Linked DNA regions of Homo sapiens: region 2 is linked to region 1. Evidence: fine-mapped expression QTL. A gene starts in region 1. The other region holds a variant in brackets. All regions are shown on one strand. Distances are between the middles of the regions. Region 1 holds the start of IL1R1 (interleukin 1 receptor type 1). Region 2 has its middle 53 kb from the start of IL1R1.

Evidence for each region. PIP is the estimated chance that this variant, and not a neighbour inherited with it, causes the effect. A credible set is the group of variants that fine-mapping cannot tell apart.
Region 2: its variant is the best candidate, but not a certain one, in a credible set for the expression of IL1R1 in whole blood (INTERVAL, PIP 0.87).

The regions. Positions count from the first base shown.
Region 1 is chr2:102,140,927-102,144,926 of GRCh38, forward strand. It overlaps IL1R1 (interleukin 1 receptor type 1), which reads left to right and starts at 1,820. Exons shown (of 12, transcript NM_000877.4): 1 at 1,820-2,094. RefSeq lists enhancers at 2,683-2,977, 2,743-3,037.
Region 2 is chr2:102,088,008-102,092,007 of GRCh38, forward strand. It overlaps a transcript of IL1R1 not described here. Among named protein-coding and RNA genes, the nearest start is that of IL1R1, 53 kb to the right of the region's middle. The variant CT/C (reference allele first, on the strand shown) is at 1,827.

The sequences.
Region 1 (4,000 bases):
ACTGGGTAGGAGTGGCTGAACGGGGACAACACTTAAAAAAGACAAAAATTACGGATTTTATTTCTACATGGTTGCACAAATCAATTTCACTTTCTACTTGTAAACTGCTTAAAAACCTTCATTATGAAAATGGAAGGACGAATTTATGTTCACCATCATAGTGCTTCTGGGCTGGTTCCACAGCATGGAGCCAGGCCCACCTGCTGTAGCTTTCAGAACTGCCATTTGGACACGTGGTTGAAGCAGCCTTCAGTTGGAGGATTCACAGTAATGGCATCACTGTGGGAGCTTAGAGGAACAACTGCTTGCAACCCCAGCTGCACTGGAATTACCTGGGAGCTTTAAAAACACTGCCTTTTGGGCCTCAGCCCCAGAGACTCTGACGTGACTGATCTGAACACAGGAGTGTCATGTCCTCCGGTGATTCTGAGTGGAGTCAAGGCTGTGAGACCTTCTGCTGTATAAAGGAATATTGAGAGCTGGGATTGTTAAGGAATTCTCTTAATGCTACGTCACTGGCCTCTGATGTAAGCCTGCTTTCTCGAGGAAAAGGAACCATAAAAGCTTCTGGAAACAGATTGTTTAAGAATGAGAAATTGTCATCATGCCAGGTTGCAAGACAGCTTTTAGGGCAGATGAGCTTCTGCTGCTCATTCCTTCATCTTTTCCTCCAGCCTGGATTTGTCCGGGGGCAGCTGAGGCTCAGGTTACCTCAATTCTTGAGTTTCTGAAGAGGCATATCCAGGGGTGGGTTACGAGAACAAGAGCCTGCCCAGTCTGAAAGGGATGCAGGAAGGGGCGGTGTGTACTAGAAGGAAGGAAGCTATCATCATTTATTAAAACTCTTCTTGGAGGATGGCCCATGAAGACCTCCAAACAAGCTGGAGGGGCCAGTCACTTGCTGAAGACTAGCGAAGTGGAGGGGGAAAGCCCGAGGGAGCTGCAGACTCGACCACTGCGCCCTCCCCTCCTCTCCCTGCAAGGAGCCCAAGGTGTGATCCTGCCAGGCGTTCGTTCGCTGCATGACCTTGGCCATCCTTCCATTCCCCTGGGTGTGAATTCTCATTGGCAAAGTGAGCTGGTGGGCATAAGTGGGTTTTAAGTTTAAAAATTTAAAAACCCTGTCTGCCCCCAAGTGTGGTATCAAGATTTTATAGTATGACACTTAAATTGCTTTTTTCATCCGGGCGCGTAACAGCAACAATGAAACCAGCAGATAACGCGTGAGTAGTATCAGCTCTGGGCCTGGCACTATTTTATATGTATTAGCTCATTTTTTTTAAAAAACTGTTTTCAACCACTCCATGAGATGAGTGCTCTTATGATCCCTTTTTCACAGAAGAGGAAACGGAGGTACAAAGAAATTAGTGCACAAAGCCAGTCGGAGAGAGCCCCTGGCCAGGCACCAAGCTCCAGAGGTCGCTCTGGCGAGCGTTTGCTTCGGGATCTGATGCCCTGGAGTCGCCAACTCAATTCGCGGGTCGCAGCCAGGCTCCATGGGGGTAGTAGAGCCAGGTCGTAGTGGCTAGGTGAGTTGTCTCAACTAACTCTAGTGGAGCCGCCGCAGCCCTGGAGGAGCCGGGCCGCGACTCGAGAGCGCCCGGCAGCTCTCCAATGCTTTGGAACCGGCGGGACCCCTGCGGGCTACCCGGGGCAGGGCGGTGTCCGCAGGGGTCTGTCCAGCCGCGCCTGCTCCTCCGGGTGGAGAGTTGGGACACCCGGCCAGCTCGCTCGCAGCCCGCGGACTGGCCCAGCCGAGCCGTCTCCGCCCGTTCCCCGCCCCCGCAGCGGCGGGGCTAGAGCCAGAGCCGCGCCCGGCAGTTCCCGGCCGCGAGGGCGGGCGCAGCTTGTGGCCGGCGGCCGGAGCCGACTCGGAGCGCGCGGCGCCGGCCGGGAGGAGCCGGAGAGCGGCCGGGCCGGGCGGTGGGGGCGCCGGCCTGCCCCGCGCGCCCCAGGGAGCGGCAGGAATGTGACAATCGCGCGCCCGCGCACCGAAGCACTCCTCGCTCGGCTCCTAGGGCTCTCGCCCCTCTGAGCTGAGCCGGGTTCCGCCCGGGGCTGGGATCCCATCACCCTCCACGGCCGTCCGTCCAGGTACGGGGAAGCTGGAGCATCCGGGGACTAGGTAGGGGTGAGACGGACCACAGCCTTGACACCTTCGAGTCCCCCGCTCTGCAGGACGCCGTGAGCGTCCTCCCTAAGTTGCACTTGGTTGTCAGAGTGTGTTGTGTAAGAAGGGGATGGCGGTGAGGTCTGCGTGTGTGTGTTTCTTGTGTGGAGCAAGAGTTAACGTTGTTCAGGTCGTTTGAAGGAACTTGCCAGTTGTTCTGGAGGGGGGTTCTAGGTAGGTGTGTGACTTCCCGTGTGAATGGCTTTCAGGTTTTCTATCCGGCTACGTTCTACAGGTTCAGGAGCGTCCCTCTTAGAGGTTAGGCTCAGGACCGTCAGTCTCCTTAACAAGGTAAGGGCTGAGGCCTTAACCACACTGGGGAGGGTAACTTGTTGCCCCTCCAGATAAAGGATGGTGCTAGGGAATGTAGCTACAAGCAAGTAGGCGCTGAGAAGACACTCATTATTTACAACAGTCATGCCCAGCACTTTACAGTTTATAAGCCCTTGACAGCAACTGGTCTTTTACCCTCCCTACAGTCTTGTGAGGAGGGTGCTGTCATCACCCCTGTTTTACAGCGGGGGAAGCAGAAGTTTAGGTGACCAACTTGTTGGAGGATGATGTCCTGAAGGAGGGTAAGACCTCTGCATGCAGCCCCCCTCTGTCTTCCCTCCCACTCGTCCTGCCTGCCAGGGCTTTCTCCTCTGCACTGCCGGGAGGAAGGAAGGCCGCTGGGAAGGCACGCAGATGCTGGCTCCTGCTGGGCTGTCTCTCCACTGCCTTATCTTTGGGGCAGGGTAGCTTCTCAGATGGCCACATTCCTGTGATTTAGCTTTACATTCTAGGAACTGAGGCAAGGGACACCATGAACTTGGGCTCTTGAGGTCATGGAGCAAGGGTCCATTCGTCACGGGAATGTGATGGATGTCTCAGTCGCTGCGGTTTGGTGCCAGGCTTCTGGACATTGAATGTATGAAACAGAACTCCATGACTATTGATGAGCTGAGGAAAGCCAGAGGTGGCATGGGGACGTTCACTGTCCTTTTTGCCATCCAGTTTACCAAGCGGCTATTGGCATTGTTTTCTTTCTCAATCCCTTCTAATTTATTGTGTGATATCTCATTTGATATTTCATTTAATATTCTGTATTCATATCCGATGTTAACGTTTATGCTAGACAGAAAGGTAGAGCCTTTGAGAATGGGGTTTGCTGGGGCAGGGGTGTGGAACTCTGATTTATTTTCAGTCTCTGGCTAGCTGCCAAGCTGCTGTGTGTGAAGCGTCTCCTGCACCCGTCCACTCTCATGTGGCCTCCATGCTGTTCAGGAAAGGATATTTGATCTGAATTCTCACATGACCTTGGCAGGCCCAGAGCAGCACCCCCATTTCTAATAGGCCCTGCTTGTATGTCATAATGTGACATCAAGTTTTTTTTTTATGGTTCTGAAACCTGTGACATCTTTTGAGTCAACCTCTCACCATTGTTGAAACACTGCTTAATAGTAGATTCACTAATTTATTAAAGATTTATTGACTATCTACTATGTGCCAGGCACTGTGGTGAGTGGTGGGGAGACAGCGGTGAATACGACAAGTGAAAACCTCTGTCCCCTTATGGACATGAGTCTTCTTGGTAAGACATAGGATGTCAGCAGTCTCTCTTCAAAAGGGGGGTCTTTGAAATCCGCCCCTTTGTACAAGGGTGTGGATGCACTGGCTACCTAGAGGACACCACTCAGCAGCCCCAATGGAGAGGACGAGGAGATGATGGGCACAGATGTAGCTCTGTGGTTCCCTAGAGAATCGCAGGGCTGCTATTCTCCAAGTTTGTGGTGTCCCTTGCCTCAGTTCCTAGGATGTGGAGCTCTAGGAGGTGGAGCTACACTCTGT
Region 2 (4,000 bases), 53 kb before region 1:
AGTTCTCTTGCTATTTTCACCACATCTGCAGTTACTTCCTCTACTGAAGTCTTGAACCCCTTAAAGTCATCCACGAGGGTTGGAGTCAACTTCTAAACTCCTGTTAATGTTGATATGTTGACCTCCTCTCATTAACCATGAATGTTCTTAATGACATCTAGAATGGTGAATCCTTTCCAGAAAGTTTTCCATTTACTTTTCCAGTTCCATCAGAAAAATCACTATCTATGGCACCTATAGCCTTACAAAATGTATTTCTTAAATAATAAGAATTGAAAGTCAAAATTACCTCTTGATCCAATGGAAATTGTGTTAGCAGGCATGAAAAAACATTAATCTCTTTTTACATCTTCATCAGAGCCCTTGGATGACCAGTTCCCTTGCCAATGAACAGTGATATTTTTACAGGAATCTTTTTTTTTTTCCCCTGAGAACTAGCTCTCAACAGTGGGCTTAAAATATTCAGTAAACCATGCTGTAAACAGATGTGCTGTCATTCAGGCTTTGTTGTTAAGTTTATAGCGCATAGGTAGAGTAGATGTAGCCTAAGTTTTGAAATGAGAAATGGACGTTGGCGTCAACTTAAAGTCACCAGCTTTATTAGCTCCTAATAAGAAAGTCAGCTTGTCCCTTGAAGCTTCAAAACCAGACGTTGACTTCTTTTCTCCACTATAAAAGTCCTAGATGGCATTTTCTTCCAACAGAAGGCTGTTTTGTCTACATTGCAAATCTGTTGTTTAGTGTAGCCACCTTCATCAATGATCTTACCTAGATATGTGTAACTTGCTGCAGCTTCTACATTAACACTAGCTGCTTCATCTTGCACTTTTGTGTTATGGAGATGGCGTCTTTCCTTCAACCTCATGAACCAACCTCTGCTAGCTTCCAACTTTTCTTCTGCAGGTTTCTCACCTCTCTCAGCCTTCCTAAAATTGAAGAGTTAGGGCCTTGCTCTGTGTTAGGCTTTGGATTAAGAGAATGTTGGGTCTGTTTTGATCTATTATTGACACTACTGAAACTTTCTCCATATCAACAATAAGGCTGTTTTGCTTTCTGATCATTTGTGTGTTCACTGGAGTAGCACTTTTAATGTCCTTCAAGTATTTTTACTTTGCACTCACAACTTTTCTAACCATCTGGTGCAAGAGGCCTAGCTTTCATCCCATCTTGGCTTTCAACATGCCTAAGCTTCATCATTTCTTGTTTTTATTAAAGTGAGAGAATTGTGACTCTTCTTTGAATGCTTAGAGGTCTTTGTAGGGCTATTAATTGACCTAATTTCAATATTGTTGCATCTCAGAGAATAGGAAGGAGACAGAGAGATGGGGGAGTAGCTGGTCTGTGGGACAGTCAGAACACATTTATTAACTTTTCTGTCTTATGAGTGTGGTTTGTGTCACCTCAAAACAATTACGATAGTAACATCAGATATTGCTGATTGCAGATCACCATAACATATAATAATAATAAAGTTTGAAATAGTGTGGGAATTACCAAAATGTGACACAGAGATATGAAGTTACCACATGCTGTTGGAAAAATGGAGCTGATAGAGCCAGATGCATGGTTGCCACAAACCTTCAATTTGTAAAACAAAACAAAAACCCCCACAGTATCTGTGAGGTACAATAAAGCAAAGTGAAATAAAATGAGGTCTGTTTGTACCTCGTTGTCTTCTAGTTTTCACTGTTTCTATCAAGGAGGCAGTTGTAAGTCTTCCTCTGAATGCCTTTGTTTCTCTGACTGCTTTTAAATTGTTGCTATTTTGTCTGTGGTATTCAAGAGTTTTATTATGATGGGTCAAGGTGTAGTTATCTTTGGTTTAT[CT/C]TTTTTTTTTTTTTTTTGAGACAGAGTCTCACTCTGTTGCTCAGGCTGGAGTGCAGTGGTACGATCTCGGCTCACTGCAAGCTCCACCTCCCGGGTTCACGCCATTCTCCTGCCTCAGCCTCCTGAGTAGCTGGGACTACAGGTGCCCGCCACCACACCCGGCTAATTTTTTTGTATTTTTAGTAGAGACAGGGTTTCACCATGTTAGCCAGGATGGTCTCGATCTCCTGACCTCATGATCCGCCTGCCTCAGCCTCCCAAAGGGCTAGGATTACAGGCATGAGCCACTGCGCCCAGCCTATCCTTTTTTTTTCAATTTTTTTTTTTTTTTTGTAATTTGGCCTTCTAGTCCTTTGTCCCCTCCTCATCACCACCACCACCTACCATGGGGAGTTTTGGGTGCAGGAACCTAAATCCCCACAAAGGTTCTATGTTGGGGGTATGTAATAACAAATAAGTCAATCAGATCAAATATTATTTTCCCACCAACTTGGAATTTGCTAAGCCCCATGAAAATGTGGTTCACCAGTTTTGAAAAACGTTTGGCCACTATCTCTTCAACTGTTGCTTCTGATTTGCTCTTTCTGTCTTCTTCTAAGATTAATTATACATATGTTAGACTTCTTGAGTATATCATGCATATCTCTTACGCTCTTTTTATTATTTTTCTCTCTATGCATTGGTTTTGATATTTTCTGTTAAACTACCTCCACATTTGCAAAACCTGTGGTCTGCTGTGTTTAATCAGCTGTTAACCCATCAGCTGAATTTTCACTTCAGCTATTATATTTTTCAGTTCTAGATTGTCTATTAGATTCCTTTTTATAGATTTCAATCCATTGTTGGTATTTTTTATCCTTTTACCTGTTTAGTTCATGTTTTTCTGCATCTTCTTGAGGGTATTAATCACAGTTATTTACAGTCTTAGTTTGCTAACTATAATTTCTTGATTACATGTGAGCTGCTTCCATATTCTGCTTTTTTCTCTTAATTATTAGCCATATTTTCTCGTCTCTGTGGTAAATTTTTAATTTTGCCAAACAATGTGTATGAGAGGACAATAGAGGCTTCGGCTAATGTTATTAATGATCAGGGAGTTTCTTCTTTTCTGTTCAGTAGATGCAATGAGGTATTGGTAAACTCAGTCCAACCAGAATTTTCCATTTTAGTAAAACACATTAGAACTTGGTTTACTTGTGTTTCTCAATTGAGACTTTTCTGGGCTTTTCATAGAGAGCCTTGTGAGTCTCTGTTGCCTTAGTTCCAAAAAAATTGTGGGAGAACCAGATATACCCTCCAGAGATTCACAGCCCAGCTCTCAAGTGATCAGTCTCATAGAGATGAAAAATCTGGCAAATGTTTTGATGGAAAACAGGTTATGTGCTTGAGGCAGGGCTTCTTCTAGTAGTTTTTTTTCTTTCTTTCTTTTAATCTATCAATCTTTAACAGCATCTTGGATAGCCTATGAGTGTATGTACTTGACAAACATTGCCTCTTTATGGTTCACAGTAGTTTCTAAAATACATTCACTTTATTGGCCATTATCCTTTGAAAGCTGATTTTGTAATCTTGATAAAGTGGAAGTGGATTTTATAGTCTTGAGAAAGTGGAAATTAACAAGGCAGCTTCATGGATAATGTATCCTTTTCTTCTTTCTGAAAATTATACATACTATTTTATATATTTATGGGGTACATGTGATATTTTGTTGCATTCATAGAATGTGTAATGATCAAGTCAGAGTATGTGGAGTATCTGCCATCTTGAGTATTTACCATTTTTATACGTTGGGAATATTTCAAGTTCTCTCTTGTAACTACTTTGAAATAGACAATACACTGTTGCTTACTATAGTCACCCTACCTTGCTCTCCAATAGAACATATGCTTTCTATCTAACTGTATGTTTTTACCCATTGACCAAGCTCTCTTTATCCCCGTCTTTTACCCACACAGCCTTCCCAGCCTCTACTATCTATTATTCTTCTCTCTACCTTCATGGGATTAACTTTTTAAGCTCCTATACAGAATAAGAACATGCAAAATTTGTCTTTCTGTGTCTGCCTTGTTCCACTTAATGTAATGACTTCCAGTTCCATTCATGTTGCTGCAAATGACATAAAATCATTACTTTTTAATGGCTGAATAGAAGGTTTTTGATATGTAATAACTTA